2 separate regions of the Homo sapiens genome follow, and region 1 is linked to region 2. Evidence: fine-mapped expression QTL. Tissue or cell type: T cells. Region 2 holds a variant in brackets; the other region holds the start of a gene. All regions are shown on one strand. Distances are from middle to middle.

Region 1 (8,099 bases), 470 kb after region 2:
GACAGGGTCTCACTTTGTCACCCAGGCTGGAGTGCAGTGGTGCAATCATAGCTCACTGCAGCCTCAAACTCCTGTGCTCAAGTGATCCTCCCACCTCAGCCTCCCAGGTAGCTGGGACTACAGGCACATGTCACCAAGCCCCACTAATTTTTTTAAAAAATTTATTCGTAGAGATGGGGGTCTCACTATGTTGCCGAGGCTGGTTTTGAACTCCTGGGTTTAAGGGATCCTTCCATCTTGGCCTCCCGAAGTGCTGCAGTTACAGGTGTGTGCCCCCTTGTTCGGCTGTGTTGGCATCTGTTCATTGTGTTTTCTTTTCTTTTCTTTCTTTTTTTTTTTTTGAGATGAAGTTTTGCTCTTGTTGCCCCAGCTGGAGTGCAATGGCGTGATCTCGGCTCACCACAACCTCTGCCTCCCGGTTTCAAGTGATTCTCCTGCCTTAGCCTCCGAGTAGCTGGGATTATAGGCATGTGCCACCATGCCCGGCTAATTTTTGTATTTTTAACAGAGACGGGGTTTCACCATGTTGGTCAGGCTGGTCTTGAACTCCTGACCTCAGGTGATCCACCCACCTTGGCCTCCCAAAGTGCTGGGATTACAGGCGCGAGCCACCACGCCCAGCTGTTGATTGTGTTTTCTCATTGAAGTTTAGATTTTCCCATTTCTTGGTATAATGAGTGCTTTTTGGTGGAAACCTGGACTTTGGGGTGTCATAAGACTCTGGATCTCATTTAAATCTTGTGTTTTAGCAGGCTTCCTGACCCACTTTGGCAGGGGAAGGGGATGCCTCTTCATTATTGCCAAGTAGGGGTGGAAGTCCAGGTTTTCCACTTGGCCTTTGTTGACACGTGGAGGGAGGTTGTTTGGCACAAGTGGGAGTTCAGGCTCTCCAGTTGGCCTCCAGGGATACCACCCTTGCTGGGATGGGGAGGGGACCTCCACTGATATGTGGGGTGGGAGGTGGCTTTGTTGCAACTGAGTGACGTTGAAAGTCCTGACTCTCCACTTGGCTCCCTATGGGGACAAGAGTGACTATTTTCAATGCGAATCCGCTAACTCCAATTCCAGGAATGCCTCCAAAATGTCTAGTTGATGTATTACTCTTTATACCGGATCACCTATTCACTGTAACTTTTGCCTTTTTACAGAAACAACCCTTGATGCTGTTGCAGAAATCATAGGTTGTGACACCCACAGCATTCTCTCAACCATCTACACATTCCTCCAAGAGTAAGTATATTTTTTCCCCAAGATATAAGCCCTGGTTCTACGGGGCTACTGTGTGGAGATCCACCTGCCTTGTGGACACCCAAGACCATGCTTCTGTCTGTAAGCTCCCTCTAATAATTATCCTATATGGACAAACTGGATTTGTCTGCTTCCTACGTTTTCTCAGCTCCTTGGGCATTTGGGGGTGGCTTTGGGGGTGGCTTTGATGGAACACTCTCTCTGACATCACCCCAGGGAAGAGGATGAGTGCTTTCTTACAATTAAGTGGGGTAGAAGTCCAGGTTCTCCATATGGTTTCCACTGATACCATGCTGGGGGAGAGTCTCCTCACCTCTCAGTGGGAATGAAAATCCAGCCCTCGGCCGGGCGCGGTGGCTCACGCCTATAATCCCAGCACTTCAGGAGGCCGAGGTGGGTGGATCACAGGCTCAAGAGATCAAGACCATCCTGGCCAATATGGTGAAACCCCGTCTCTACTAAAAATACAAAAATTAGCCAGGCGTGGTGGCGTGAGCCTGTAATCCCAGCTACTCAGGAGGCTGAGGCAGGAGAATTGCTTGAACCCAGGAGGCAGAGGTTGCAGTGAGCCGAGATTGTGCCACTGCACTCCAGCTTGGGTGAGAGAACCAGACTCCGTCTCAAAAAAAAAAGAAAAAATAAAAAATAAAAATAAAAAGAAAATCCAGCCCTCCACTTGGCCTTCTCTGACACCATGCCAGGGAGAGGGGACAGTGGTGCCTCTTTACAGCCTAGCATGCGTGGCAGTCTAGGCTTTCCAAGAGGCAAGCATGGGGATGGGGCTTTTTCTGTGGTTTGGGCTGGATTAGAGCCATTATTGTGTAAACGTTTTCTGTCCTCTGAGGCTGCCCATTTCCTGGTCCTGTGGCTAGAGAGAGAAGGCTTTTCTTAGGGCATTGTCTTTGCCTGTCGGCATTTCCAGGTTGCTTGCTTCCTAGCACCCAGTCTGGGATATATAAGGCAACACCCACCATGTTGTTCCTTGCGTCCCAGGGTGGCTAGCTGGTTTGCCTTCTCTCCAACTTTTGGAGTCTTAGATTGTTTTATATATAATGCCCACAATTTTTAGTTGTACTTAGTAAAAGGAATAGGGAAAATTGTGTCTAGTTCATCTTCCTGGAAACAAAAATCTTCCATCTTGTTTTCATAGAAGGCCATGGAACTGTGCTAACCACTGGAATCTATTTGTTTTGTTTGTTTGTTTGAGATGGAGTCTCGCTGTGTTGCCCAGGCTGGAGTGCAGTGGCATGATCTCTGCTCACTGCAACCTCCACCTCCTGGTTTCAAGTGATTCTCCTTCCTCAGCCTCCTGAGTAGCTGGGACTACAGGTAAACGACACCATGCCTGGCTGATTTTTTTGTATTTTTAGTAGATGGGGTTTCCCCATGTTGGCCAGGCTGATCTCAAACTCCCGACCTCAGGTGATCCGCCTGCCTCAGCCTTCCAAAATGCTGGATTACAGGTGTGAGCCACTGCACCCGGCCCACTGGAATCCTTTTTGTATAATATCCTGGCTGCGAAGTTAGAGTTTTTACACTTGCATTTGGCAGATGCAATTCAAATTGGTTACCAAAACTTTGAAATATATTGAGTTGCTTCTAAAACAAATTCCATGCAGGATTGAAGAGTGGGTAGGCTAAGAGGGTAGCAGGCCTGGGAAATGAACCCCAGGAAACTGACTTAGTCATGCAATAAAGACTCAGGTGTTACCAGTGGAGAGTGTCCAGGTTCTTGGCGTTTTGAACAAACAATTGGACAAAACGCACAAACAAAGCAAGGAAAGAATGATGCAACAAAAGCAGAGATTTATTGAAAACAAAAGCACACTCCACAGGTTGGGAGCCTGCCTAGCAGGTGGCTCAAGAGCCCGGTTACAGAATTTTCTGGAGTTTAAATACCCTCTAGAGGGTTCCCGTTGGTTACTTGGTGTACACTCTATGTAAAAGAAGTAGTGGCCTGTGATCAGCCTGATTGGTTGCAAGAGGGGACCAATCAGAGGTACCTTCAATTTTTCATCTGCCAGGCAGAAAAGCGGGGCAGGTTGCAAAGGGACTAGCTTCTGTTCCTTTTGTTACCTGGGCATGGAAAGTTCGGGTTTTCCTTTTGATTTAGTTCTAGGAAGTCAGCGTGAATTGGCCTTAGGTTCCCTGTCTCCAGACCCTATTTTTCTGCCTTACGGTTCATATTGGGTTTGCTACAAGGATATTCAAACTTTGTGAATTGGCAAGCAGGAATCTAGAGTTTCCAGAACAATGGAGAGGGGCCAGAAAGGTATAAAAACTTTTGTGAAAACGTCAAAAATAAATATTTAGTTAAAAATAAAATTTCCCATTTTCAGATTTTGTGAATATCTGTAAGAATTTCCAGGATATATTAATTCGCTAAAGTTAATAAAAGCAAGAAACAGAAGGACGTTTCAGAATGCTATTGTTTGTGTAACAAGGGGGTGCTGAATACATACATAATTGCTTGGTTATGAATAAACTGGCTCTGGAAGGACACACATAGCTAATAGCATCGTTACCTAGGGGGAGGTGAAGTGGGTCCTGGAGAACAGAAAGGGAGATTTTCCACCTTACACACATTTGCCATCTTATGATTTTGAACGATAAGAGTCCCCCCGCCCCTTCCTTCCTCTGCCCTGCCCCTTCCTTCCTCTGCCCTTTACTCTCTCAATATCCTCTTTTCATGCTTTTTTTTTTTTTTTAAATCACTTCGGGTCCTTTAAAAAATTTACTTGCAAGAAGTACGTACATATTCTGAATAAAATTCATTTTCAGATATATGTATTACAAATATCTTGTCTGTTCTATTGTCTTTCCCTTTTCTCAATGGGGTCTTTTCGGTGTCTTATAGTTACAGACACCCAATTTATCAGCTTTTTCCTTTAGGACTGGCACTTTTTGTGTTCTGCTAACACGTTATTTTCCTCTCTTATGGTCATAATATTCTGCGATTTTATTGTCTAGAGTTGTATTGTTCACATTCAGGTCTACCATCCGTCTAGAATTATTTTACTTGAGATAGGAGTCAAGGTTCATTTCCCCCCAATCGACCTTCAATTGACCTAGCACTATATATTGAAAAAACTCTTCTTATTGCATTACAGTGGCTACTTGTAGGAGGAAAAAGTGACTACATAGCTGCAGGTCTGTTTCTGGTCTCTCTCTTTTTCATTCATTGTTTTTACCTTTGTGCCAGTTATCACACTGTTCTGATTACTGTGGCATTATAATCATCTTGATAACTGTATCGTGAATTCTCCAACTGTGTTCTTCGCCGGAAGTCCACGGAACACCAACCACGACCTTCGGAATTTCCCTCCGGAAGATGAAGGCACTGTAGTTATGCGGGTGGACCCTATCAGATCTCGGGTCCATCGGGTCCTGTGTACACCTTGAGGGACGCCCACCCAACGCGCATGCGCAGCCTCAATGCTGGGATTGGACGGAGCCTCGCCGGCTGCGTACACGTCACTTCCGAGGCGGGAGGATGAAGTTGATTGACTATGGTCTCTCCGGCTACCAGGTAGGGGCTGGGGAAGAAGGAACCTCCGAGATGAGGCGATAGGGTCTGGCCTTGAGCTGAGGCGACGCCCCGGCTTGGGTGAGGGGAAGCGGTGTAGTGGTCGAGCTAAGGCCGCGGGCCCTGGGCGGCTTCCGGATCCCCGCGACGCCGAACTCTGAAGGAAGACTCAGCCCAGGCGCTGGGACCAGAGCCCTGGCTCCGGCGAGTGCGTGGCGGGGAAACCCGCCTGTCGCCGAGGTGTCTTGAGTCCAGTTTCCGCTGCTGGGAATGGGTGTCGCGCCGGGCGCTGTGTGTGAAAGGCCTCGCGCCCACAGGGCTCCTGGCTTCAACCTGTTTATTCCCACATTTCTGCGCGACGTAGGGGAGGCTCCGCAGCGTCTGCGAGTGGCAGGACCGAGGGTTGAGCGCTGGGGGCCAGTGGCACCTTAGCCAGTGACGGCGAGTTAGGACTAGCAAAGGAAGTCCGGTTTTTCAGAAGGCAGGAGGAGGGTGCTGACTCGAGCGTCCACGGGAATGGCTGGTTGAGATATCTTGCTCTTCCAATACTTACTCTGCGGCTTCCTGGCTGTGCGGCTTTGGGCAAATGTTTTAAACTCTGAGTGTTTCTTCAGCTGTAACTTTGGGAGTAACAAGCCCACTCATAAGGTTGTTGTGAAGCGTAAATGAGACTGCGCGTGCAAGGTGCTCAGCTGGTGTCTGGCACATAGTAGGTATTCAACAAATGGTAGCCACATAATGCTCTTTTTTTCAGTTTCCAAACCTTCCATGTAGTGATTGGAGAATCGTGAAGTTACTTTTGAAGTAACGTTTGGGTTTCACACACTCATACATTTAGTAAGCAGAATTCTTGCTTACACTGTTGCCGATTGCAACGGTGTGTTTGCATAATGGAAGCTATGTTTGTGCCTTTGCCAAGGGTGTGGAATATGCCTTCCCTACCATGTACATGTCCCCTTTTCTCCATTCCTTAATAATAGTTGATATTTTTTGAGTGTTTGCTATGTTACAGGCACTGTACTAATCCCTTTACTGAATTATTCAATCCTGTAATAACCCTAATCATAGGAACTATAATTTTTATTTATGGAGGGAGAAATGGGCTTAGAGATGTTAAGAAGTTTATCCAAAGGCATAGAGCTATTAGCCAGGCAAGGTAGCACACGCCTGTAGTCCCAGCTATTTGTTGGGGCTGAGGCAAGTGGATTGCTTGAACCTGGGAGACAGGCTGCAGTGAGCCGAGATCACGCCATTGCATTCAAGTCTGGGTGACAAAGTGAGACCCTGTCTTGGCTGGGCGCAGTGGCTCACACATGTAATCCCAGCACTTTAGGAGGCTGAGGCGGGCGGATCACCTGAGGTCAGGAGTTCGAGACCAGCCTGGCCAACGTGGTGAAACCCCGTCTCTACTAAAAAATACAAAAATTGGCTGGGCGCGGTGGCTCACGCCTGTATTTCCAGCACTTTGGGAGGCCAAGGCGGGCGGATCACGAGGTCAGGACCTCGAGACCATCCTGGCTAACACGGTGAAACCCCGTCTCTACTAAAAAAATTCAAAAAAATTGGCTGGGCTTGGTGGCGGGCGTCTGTAGTCCCAGCTACTAGGGAGGCTGAGGCAGGAGAATGGCGTGCTCCGGATGGCGGAGCTTGCAGTGAGCCGAGATCCCGCCGCTGCACTCCAGCCTGGGCGACATAGTGAGACTCTGTCTCAAAACAAACAAACAAACAAAAATTAGCCGGGCGTGGTGGTGGGCGCCTGTAATCCCAGCTACTCGGGAGGCTTTGGCAGGAGAATCGCTTGAACCTGGGAGGCAGAGGTTGCAGTGAGCCGAGATGCCGCCACTGCATTCCAGCCTGGGCGACAAGAGCGAGGAGACTCCGTCTTAAAAAAAAAAAAAAAAAAAAAGTGACACCCTGTCTCAAACAACAACAACAACAACAACAAACAACAACAAAGGCATAGAGCTAGTAAAGGCCGATCCAATGCCATGTCACTCCAGAACCTAGCGCTTAGCTACAAATTTCATTCATTCCTTCAGATACTTATTGAACGTTTACAGTGTACCAGCATTGTGCTGGGTGTTGTGGATACAATGATGATCAAAACAGATAAAGCCCCTGTCTTTAAATTGCTTATAAATCTAGCAAGGGAGATAGTAAATATATAAATAAAACTAAATATTAATTACGATTGTGATGCATGCTGTGGAGGACAGTAGAGGGTGCTGTGAGGATACATAATGGAGTCACCGGCATGCGGAGGGGGAAATGAGGAGAGACAGGGAAGGCTTTCCCAAGAAAATAATATTTAGCTGAGACTTAAAGGACTGAGTTGGAGTTAAATTGGACAAAGAGCTAACAGGAGGAGGGAAGGGCATGTGTGAGGTCTTGAGACTAGGAGGAGCTTGTATCTTGTTACTTAAAGACCCCTGTGAGGCTGTAGGTGGTGGCTCACACCTATAATCCGAGCGCTTTGGGAGGCTGAGGTGGGAGGATCATGTGAGGCCAGGAGTTTGAGACTAGCCTGGGCAACATAGGGAGACCCCATTTCTACAAAAAATAAAAAATTATCTAGGCGTGCTGGTGTGTACCTGTTGTCCCAGTTACTCAGAAGGCTGAGTCAGGAGGATCACTTGAGCCCAGGAGTTTGCGGCTACAGTAAACTGTGATAATACTACGGCACTCCAGCCTGGGCAGCAGAGTAAGACCCTGACTCAAAAAAAAAAAAAAAAAAAAGAAAAAGAAAAAAATAAGCATTAAACCAGACTGGAATGTATTATGGATAATATGCTAATGCAGTTTCTTTCAGAAAAGAAATCCCACCACTTATTTGTATGCAGCTGAGCAGATACAACCCATTATGTAGTCTCAAGATTAATGGTAATTTGTCCTCTTATAAGAAGACTTGACAGCACCATTTGCTGTACATGTTTTCATAGTTCATTCTAAATTCACCTGGTAATTGGGTTGGTCATCTGTGCTACCTAGTTACTTTTTTCCAAAGGAAAACATGAAACAGCTCTATGATAAAACAAGTAGTTGAGGTGCCTAGGCTAAACTTCCACAGTGATAGGGATAGGGCTGGGGCATTGTCTTCCTGGATATTTCCATTTAAAATAGGGGGTTTGGCTGAGCACGGTGGCTCACGCCTGTAATCCCAGTACTTTGGGAGGCTGAGGAGGGCAGATCACCTGAGGTCAGGAGTTCGAGACCAGCCTGGCCAACATGGCGAACCCCGTCTCTATTAAAAATACAAAAATGTGTGGTGGCGTGTGCCTGTAATCCCAGCTACTCAGGAGGCTGAGGCAGGAGAATCGCTTGAACT
Region 2 (8,104 bases):
GTAGATTTGAACACCTGCTGTGGCATGTGGAGCTGCCCCTTTGCTACCTGACTTACCTTCTCTCAAGAGTCTCACAACTCTTCCAAGGCCTGTCTGAATTGTCTATTTCTAGGTAATGTGATCAAGCTGGAGAAACAGAAGTCAGATCTGGGGAGGCAGCTAAAGACTCTGACTGAGCAGATACAGGGGAGATGTGGCAGGAGCCTTCACCACCATCTTCCTATAAATTACCCCTCCAAAGTCGGGATCACTCTCTCTATCCTGCTTTATCTTGGAACATTTTCATGACATGGGCCCTGAAACTGTAAGTTCTTGCCAGCAGGAAGTAAAGTCAAAGCAGTCATTTGTTGTCAGGATGGAGAGCTCTCATAACCTGAAGGTGTAATTTCCACCAGTGCCTTTTCCTAGCAGCAAGACACCGTGAAAGCAGGGCCTCACTAAGCACTGCTGGCTGTTCTTTCTTGGTGACTGATACAGGGGCTCTGGAGTCTCTGCTCAGGCACCAGCCCTGGCAGGCATCTGACACAGGGTTGGGCTCTGGCATTTTCAGAAGGAGACCATGGAATGGAGGTGGTTCCAGCCAGATCTGCAGACTGCGGTGGCAGTGGCCAACAATGTCAAGTGAGAAGCCCAGCAGGAGCTGGGCACTGTGAAGAGGAAACTGCTGAACTGCTGGAGGAGGAGGAGAAGGAGGAGGAGAATGCCTGGCTGCAGAAGGAGCTGGGGGATGTGCAGGGCTGCGGCAGGGTGGTTTCCAGCAGAGCTGCCCCTCCGTGAGTCTAGTGGGCACCCAGGCCATGCTTGCTTTTCACTTAATTACTGTGCGTGGGGCTCCCTGGTGGGGATGAGACGCTTCATGTCTCTCTGTGCAAGGCTCTGCTGTTTCTTTTCTGGGATCAGTCTGCATTACCAGTGCTACCGCATCACTAGGAACATTCCATCCAGTGCCCAGTTTCTGCCATGCTTAGCAGCATAAGGGGCTGCTAAGCTCCTCACTTACATATGAAGGGCGAGTTCTAGCCAAGTATCCTGCTAGGCTTAAAGAATAGAAGTCCTGTCTAGGATGCTCCTTGAATCTTAGTATTTATTAGTGCAGGGAGTGCACACTGATAAATACGAGCCCACCACCTTGCACAGGTCACTCCCATGCAGTGGGAGAAGCTGGAATCACTCCTGAGGGGAGGAGCCACCAAATAAGGACACATTCCTCCCGGCCCAGGGATGTGTCTACTTATTTGACAACACCCATGGGCTACTTCAACAGGCCTTGACATAACTCACTTTATTTTAAAAAGAGTGGAAAACATGCATTTGGCTGATGTATGACATTCCCCTCTGCTCTGGACGGGAAGAAACACACAGCCTATCAGCCCAGAGAGCTCTGCTAATAGTGACATTTAAGAGTATTTGGGACTACAGTTGCACCAGACAAGATCATTACTTTATAGCCGGACCTCTACCCTCTGGCCACCAAAGGATGTGGATTTTAGGAAAACTAGATTTTGCAGTGTTCCCTGTTGAAACAGCAGTGAGGCCATTCAGGGTGGCCTCTGTGTCTGCTGTTGTTTGTTTGCCTCTGTCTTGCTTCCCTATTGTCTGTCATTGGAAGAAGATCCCAGTCAGAACTTGTGTTGCTTCACATGGACGCTATTTTAATGATAAATGGTAAAAGGTAAGTCCTAAGTTTCCATGGTAGCCCTGAATAACCAGGTTCTTGTATGAGCTGCTTCATTTCTTATGTATACTGTGAGACACAGGCCATACCATGCAGTGTGAACCCTGGTATTCTAGGAAATCTCCGCATGCATCCTGGCAGTTTAGGACTCCCTATGCTGCATCCTGCATCTTCAGTCTTAACGTCATTGTTTTTTTAAACACAGAATTTTCTTTTTTGATTTTCCGGTGATTTGCAACATTACTTTCTCAATATAGCAGTTTAATCCCTTACCACAAAACATTTCAAATTTTGGAACTGACACCAATGAGAACGTGTCATGGTACTGAAATCAGGCATCATGATGATTTTGCCTGCCATTGTGTTTGGCAGGAAGTCAGACAAGTGCCAGTGATGGTTTCTTGTCTGATTTTGCACTTCTCTGGCAAGCTGTCACCTCTGAAGAGTTGACTATTGGGTAATTACTCGCTCATGGCTCGGTCACTCCTGGAACCTACCCCATGAGCAAGAACTAGAACCAACTCACACCCTCCAAGCTCCCGAAGCCAGCCAGTGTTTCCGTCTTGGCTGAATGAGTTCTTGATTGAAACTCAATTTGACTTTGGCAGTCATCTAATGAGAACTCAAAAGTCATCCTTGGTTCAGCCACAGCAAAAGAACTTGCAGAACATTCTCTGATGAGATCTTCAAGTACAACTGAGAGAAGGTAAGAACACCCAAAAAGCACCTGGATCCTGACACGGGATTACCTGATTCTTAAACTGTTTGCCCCCGTGGGCACTCACAGGGATGGTTGCAGCCAGGCTGATAGGCATGAGATGAAGCGCCCAGGCAGGAATGCAAATCAGCATTTATTACCGGAACTCAGTGACTACACAGTGGGATATTATCTAACTCATCAATGATCTTCAGCCCTGTTACACTTCAAAAATATTTTTATTTCAGAGTTAGAATAACTGATGTTAAGGTATATGGGGAAGGAAGGTGGTAGCCTCGTCTTTGCAGCCAACCAGCAGTATCTCATTCTCAGCCTCATGTTTGCAGCCAACTAGCAATATCTCGTTCCCAGCCCCGTCTCCTGCCTCTGTTAAAAGAGGTGGGAAAAGTGAGTAGTTTTCAAGGTCCGTTTAAGCTCTGCTATTCTCTGGACTGGTTGGTCAGCTGACCTTTCCCTGGTGGGAGAGTCAGAAATTCCTGTGCCAGCCTTAGCATCTTTCTGATGCAATCCTTTGAACCTCTTTGACACAGTGGTTTCCCCATTGTTGATGAGCAGTGCATGACACAAGGCTTCTCTAACAGCAGCGGGGAAAGACCTCTGCATTTACTGTGTTTGTTTATTTCTCTTGTTCTGAAACAGTAAATGCTGTTATTTCAGGGTGACTTACCTAATTCTTACAGTGTTTATATAACACCAGTAAACATCCATGGAAGGAAAACATCTTTAAAAGAGATCATTAAACACACTTAACATCTGTGCCTAATTAATGCTATTGGTATCTAAATAGAATGTCTGTGATTCGAATGTGTTTTGCCTGCACCACCAGTTCTTGGGTTGTCCCCTCTCGGAGGTGAGCACTGTGGCAGCACAGCATGTGCAGACTCCGCTGGAATTGGCTTAACTCCGTGTGTGCACATCAGTGTCAGCCCGAGCGTCGCTGCATGTGCCCGCACTGCCCTCTGTGTTGCTCTGATGGCTCTAATGGGTCACAGCCGCTTAGCACATGTTCTCCAGCTGCTGCGGAGAGGGGAAGGGCAGAAGTTGGAGGTATAGATTCTTGGGTCCCTAAGGTCCCTTTTCAAGCTCTCTTGCTGCAGATGCTCTGGTACCGAGCCCCTGTCCCAGGTGGAGGGGGCCCATTCCGCTAAGGATTCCTAAACAGTTTCTGAACAGACTTCACCTTAGCACCCATGACGAACAGGGGCTTCTGGCATTTAATTTGGCCCTTAATGTAGAACCTGGTCCTCTCATATCCTCTTACTCTAGCCAGCCTTATCTGTTGACTCACATAGTACTTTTTTTTTATAGTTTAGATTTATGACATACACAGTCTATAATTCTAAATAGCTGTGTCTGCCTCCCTATTCCCTAATCCGCATCTTTACAGATTTGAACGGTGTGGACATAAGCTTCTCTTAGGCCTTTAGGATTTTTAGGTTGAAATTATGAAAGAAAAAAAGTTTTTTGGCCTTGACAGTAGAGGGGAAGCACAAGCCTCTCTGTAAATTCTGGAGGGGCCTGTGGTGTTCATCATGGGCATCTCTGCTTCACCACACAGTTCTTTGTTGGAGAAGTTCTGGTGGAGGAGCCTAGTACAGGCATTTGTAGTCTGACATTTTTTTATGTCCGAAAACCTTTGGCTTCCAAAAAATTGGAACAGTAGGAATTAAAACCCATTGGCCTGTCCTGGACATTAGCTTGTCCCCGTAGGGCAGTGTAAGCTGGAAATTCTTGCGTTTGTGAACTAAGACCGTGTTGCCTTAGGGTAACTCCTTTACAGCCTCTCCCTCCCCATTTCTATTTTCACCTCTCAGTGGGCTCTGTCAGCTAGCAGAGCATTTGGTGGAAGAAAGACAGCCCAGCTCTTCCCATGATTGGGATCCACAGCCATCTCTGTATGAAAGGGGGAATGTGTAGAAGAGAAATTACCTCTTTATAAAGAGCCCAGGTGTCTCCTTGTGACATTCACTGTTTCTCGGAACCATTGCCTTTGAGTCTGCTTTTTGTCCACATTTTGGAATCAGCTCACTGCATGATCAAAGATGATCCTTCACTCTTTTTTCTTTTTCTCAGAAGCTTCAGCAGTCTTTTATTTGGAGAATAAAATGAAGTTGTACTGAAAAAAGAAAGTACAGGTCTCATGAAGAAGAGTTATTTGCAGCTGGAATGTTGAGAAGGCACAGTGGCAGAGCAGATCTGAGTAATGCTTATTCCGAAGAAGTCAAAAAGTTTGGCTTCCTTCTGTGGGGTCTTGATTGTGCCTCTTCACACAGGGTCTGACTTCATTACCTCATCTGAAACTAAGTACCACTAAGCTTTGGTTTGATTTCCAGAATCTTGCTGGGCTAAACGCAAGTAGATGTTTCGTTCATTGTTGGGAATAGGCCCCCAAAATCTGGCCATAAACTGGCCCCCAAACTGGCCATAAACAAAATCTCTGCAGCACTGTGACATGTTTGTGATGGCCATGACGCCCA[C/T]GCTGAAGGTTGTGGGTTTACCGGAATGAGGACAAGGAACACCTGGCCCACCCAGGGCAGAAAACCGCTTAAAGGCGTTCTTAAACCACAAACAATAGCATGATCGATCTGTTTAAGGAGAGCATGCTCCTGCTGCTGATAACTAGCCAGAGCCCATCCCTTTATTTCGGCACATCCCTTTGTTTCCCGTAAGGAATAGTCTTAGTTAATCTATATAGAAACAATGCTTATCACTGGCTTGCTGTCAGTAAATATGTGGGTAAATCTCTGTTTGAGGCTCTCAGCTCTGAAGGCTTGAGACCCCTGATTTCCCACTCCACACCTCTATGTTGCTGTGTGTGTGTCTTTAATTCCTCTAGTGCCACTGGGTTAGGGTCTCCCAACCAAGCTGGTCTCAGCAGTTGATCATAAAGGATGCTGTTAAGCCAGATAGGTAAGCATGGTGACAGTGGCAATAGAAATCTAATGGAAAACGGTTGAATGACAACTACACCAAAAGCCTCATGGATGAAACTCAGCCTGGAAACTTAGTGTTCAACTCAGAGCGATCCACAATTTTATGTGGATTTTAAACTTCCAGAAATGTGATTTTAAACTTCCGGGAATACCTGTGTTTGTGAAGATCCAAATCCATTTCAGCAACCTCCATCAGGCAGAAACCTCCTGCAGTTCTCAGCATGGAGCTATTAGCTATCCAAAGGAAAGCTAGTATCTATTTTATCCAAAGGATGAGACAAGGCAAGAGTTACTGTCTAATAAAAGGAAAATTAGGAACAGGAGTGCTCTTTAAACTCAGGAAGATGTTTTGGGGTGTCAAACCAGACAGCACAGAATCACTAGAAACATTAGCTTGGTGTGAGAAAGAAGAGACATTGATATCTTCTGTGTAAAAATAAATACTTGCGAGTAGGACTGTAGATTCTGGGAGCTCTTTATCTCGTATTCAGAGTTGTTGGGATGATTTAAAACTCATTTGCTGGATGTTTTTAAATATAAACAGTAAGAAAACTGCAACCTCAACTTAAAAGGCACCACTGTATTTGCAGCCCACATTTTGTCCTATCTTTACTCCAGGTACTGCTGAGTATTTTTATCTGTAAGCATTTGTAAAATGCTAAATAATGTTGTTATACAGAAGCTCGTCTGCTGCTTAAGGTTTTTTTTTTTTTTTTGAGACGGAGTCTCGCTCTATCGCCCAGGCTGGAGTGCAGTGGCGCAGTCTCAGCTCACTAACCTCCATCTCCCGGGTTCACGCCATTCTCTTGCCTCAGCCTCCTGAGTAGCTGGGACTACAGGTGCTGGCCACCACACCCAGCTAATTTTTTATATTTTTAGTAGAGACGGAGTTTCACCGTGTTGGTCAGGATGGTCTGGATCTCCTGACCTTGTGATCTGTCCACCTCGGCCTCCCAGAGTGCTGGGATTACAGGCGTGAGCCACCGCGCCCGGCCTGCTGCTTGAGTTTTAATCACCAGCTATGTTTCTGCAGGGCCTTTATGTCATTTTGTTCTACATTTTTTCATGAATATAGTTTCAGAACTTCAAAGCCTCCTCAAATAATAGAATTTGAAGGAGAAACAAGCTGGACTTTAAATATAAGTTGTAGATAGAAGGTTGAGCTGGGATATGAATGATTTTATTATTAGAACAAGAGGACGTGGAGCAAAAACACTAGTTTTGCATAAATTAATTTTTAAGCAAAACTGTAGAATCTCAGAAAATATAGTATGGACTTTTTAGTCTAGATGTTTCTTGTTGAAATTTAAAAATGAATAGATTGGTGAATTAATGTATTGGATTTTCTCCTAATTATGAAGTAATATTTAGGTATACTGGTAGCAAAATGGAGATGTGTCAAGAAAAATACTAATCTTTCTCCTCCTTCAGTACTCACCCTGCAAGGAAATCACTGGTAACAGTGTGTATATTTTTTGTTAATCATAAAATGTATAGGCTTCATTTATATATGTTTAAATATAAACAGGACTATGTTCTACACAGTATGCTGCACCTTCACTTTTTATTTCATGTAACATGGGCATCCTTCCAGGTCAATACATACAAAGAGAACTCATTTTAAGAGCTGCATGGCCTTCCACAGGAGGGATGTGCCCTGGAATATTCAAATATTGTCTTACTAATGCCAGCAAGGTTATAGTTTTCTTTGTTACGAATAATGCTATAATACGAGTCCTTATTCATATAGTCCTATATAGTTGTGATTTTATTTTTATAGCATGAATTTCTAAAACTATGACTGCTGCTCTAGAGAATATACACATTTTTATCTTAATAGATGTCTCCAGGTTACTCACCTGACTGCTGTGACATTTCACTTTCTTTTTTTTGTTTGTTTTTTTGAGATGGAGTCTCGCTCTGTCGCCCAGGCTGGAGTGCAGTGGCACGATCTTGGCTTACTGCAAGCTCCGCCTCCCGGGTCCACACCATTCTCCTGCCTCAGCCTCCGGAGTAGCTGGAACTACAGGCGCCCGCCACCACGCCCGGCTAATTTTTTGTATTTTTTAGTAGAGACGGGGTTTCACCGTGTTAGCCAGGATGGTCTCGATCTCCTGACCTCGTGATCGGCCTGCCTTGGCCTCCCAAAGTGCTGGGATTACAGGCGTGAGCCACCGCACCTGGCCGACATTTCACTCTTGATGAACGTGCCCATCTCTGCATAGTCTGAGCAGCCACAGAAAGTGTTGATCTTATTTTTGCCAATAGGATAAGTGAAAAATACTATCTTATTAGATTTTAATTTGTATATCTCTGAGCATATTTTTATGTGTACTAACCAATTGCACTTTCTCTTCTAGAGTTGCTAGTTTAGCACTTTTGCCTATTATTTCACTGAGCTGATTGTTTCTTTCTCATCAGTTTATAAGTCAGTATTTTATTAGGGATGTCGGGGTTTTTTTGTTTCGTTTTGTTTTGGGGGGGTTGTTTTTTGTTGTTGTTGTTTTGAGACAGGGTCTTGCTTTGTCACCCAGGCTGGAGTGCAGTGGCACGATCACAGCTCACTGAAGCCTTGACCTCCCAGGCGCAAATGATCCTCCTACTCAGCCTCCCAAATAGCGGGGACGACAGGCGAACACCACCATGCCTTCCTAATTCGAATTTTTGTCCAGCTGGGATGTCACTTTATTGCCGAGGCTGGTCTTCAACTCCTGGGCTTGAGTGATCCTCCCACCTTAGTCTCCCAAATCACTGGAATTATAATTGTGAATCACTGTG

What was found. PIP is the estimated chance that this variant, and not a neighbour inherited with it, causes the effect.
Region 1: DHRS7B starts here. The variant in region 2 is fine-mapped to the expression of DHRS7B in T cells (TOPMed, PIP 0.95).

What each region holds. Positions count from the first base shown.
Region 1 is chr17:21,122,215-21,130,313 of GRCh38, forward strand. DHRS7B (dehydrogenase/reductase 7B) reads left to right here and starts at 4,750. Exons shown (of 7, transcript NM_015510.5): 1 at 4,750-4,777. The coding sequence starts at 4,758. RefSeq lists an enhancer at 4,412-5,071.
Region 2 is chr17:20,651,427-20,659,530 of GRCh38, forward strand. It overlaps LOC105371583 (a long non-coding RNA gene), which reads right to left. Exons shown (of 3, transcript XR_934317.3): 2 at 4,323-4,509. It also overlaps the pseudogene LOC100287072 and the pseudogene LOC729334. Among named protein-coding and RNA genes, the nearest start is that of LINC02088, 22 kb to the left of the region's middle. The variant C/T (reference allele first, on the strand shown) is at 4,871.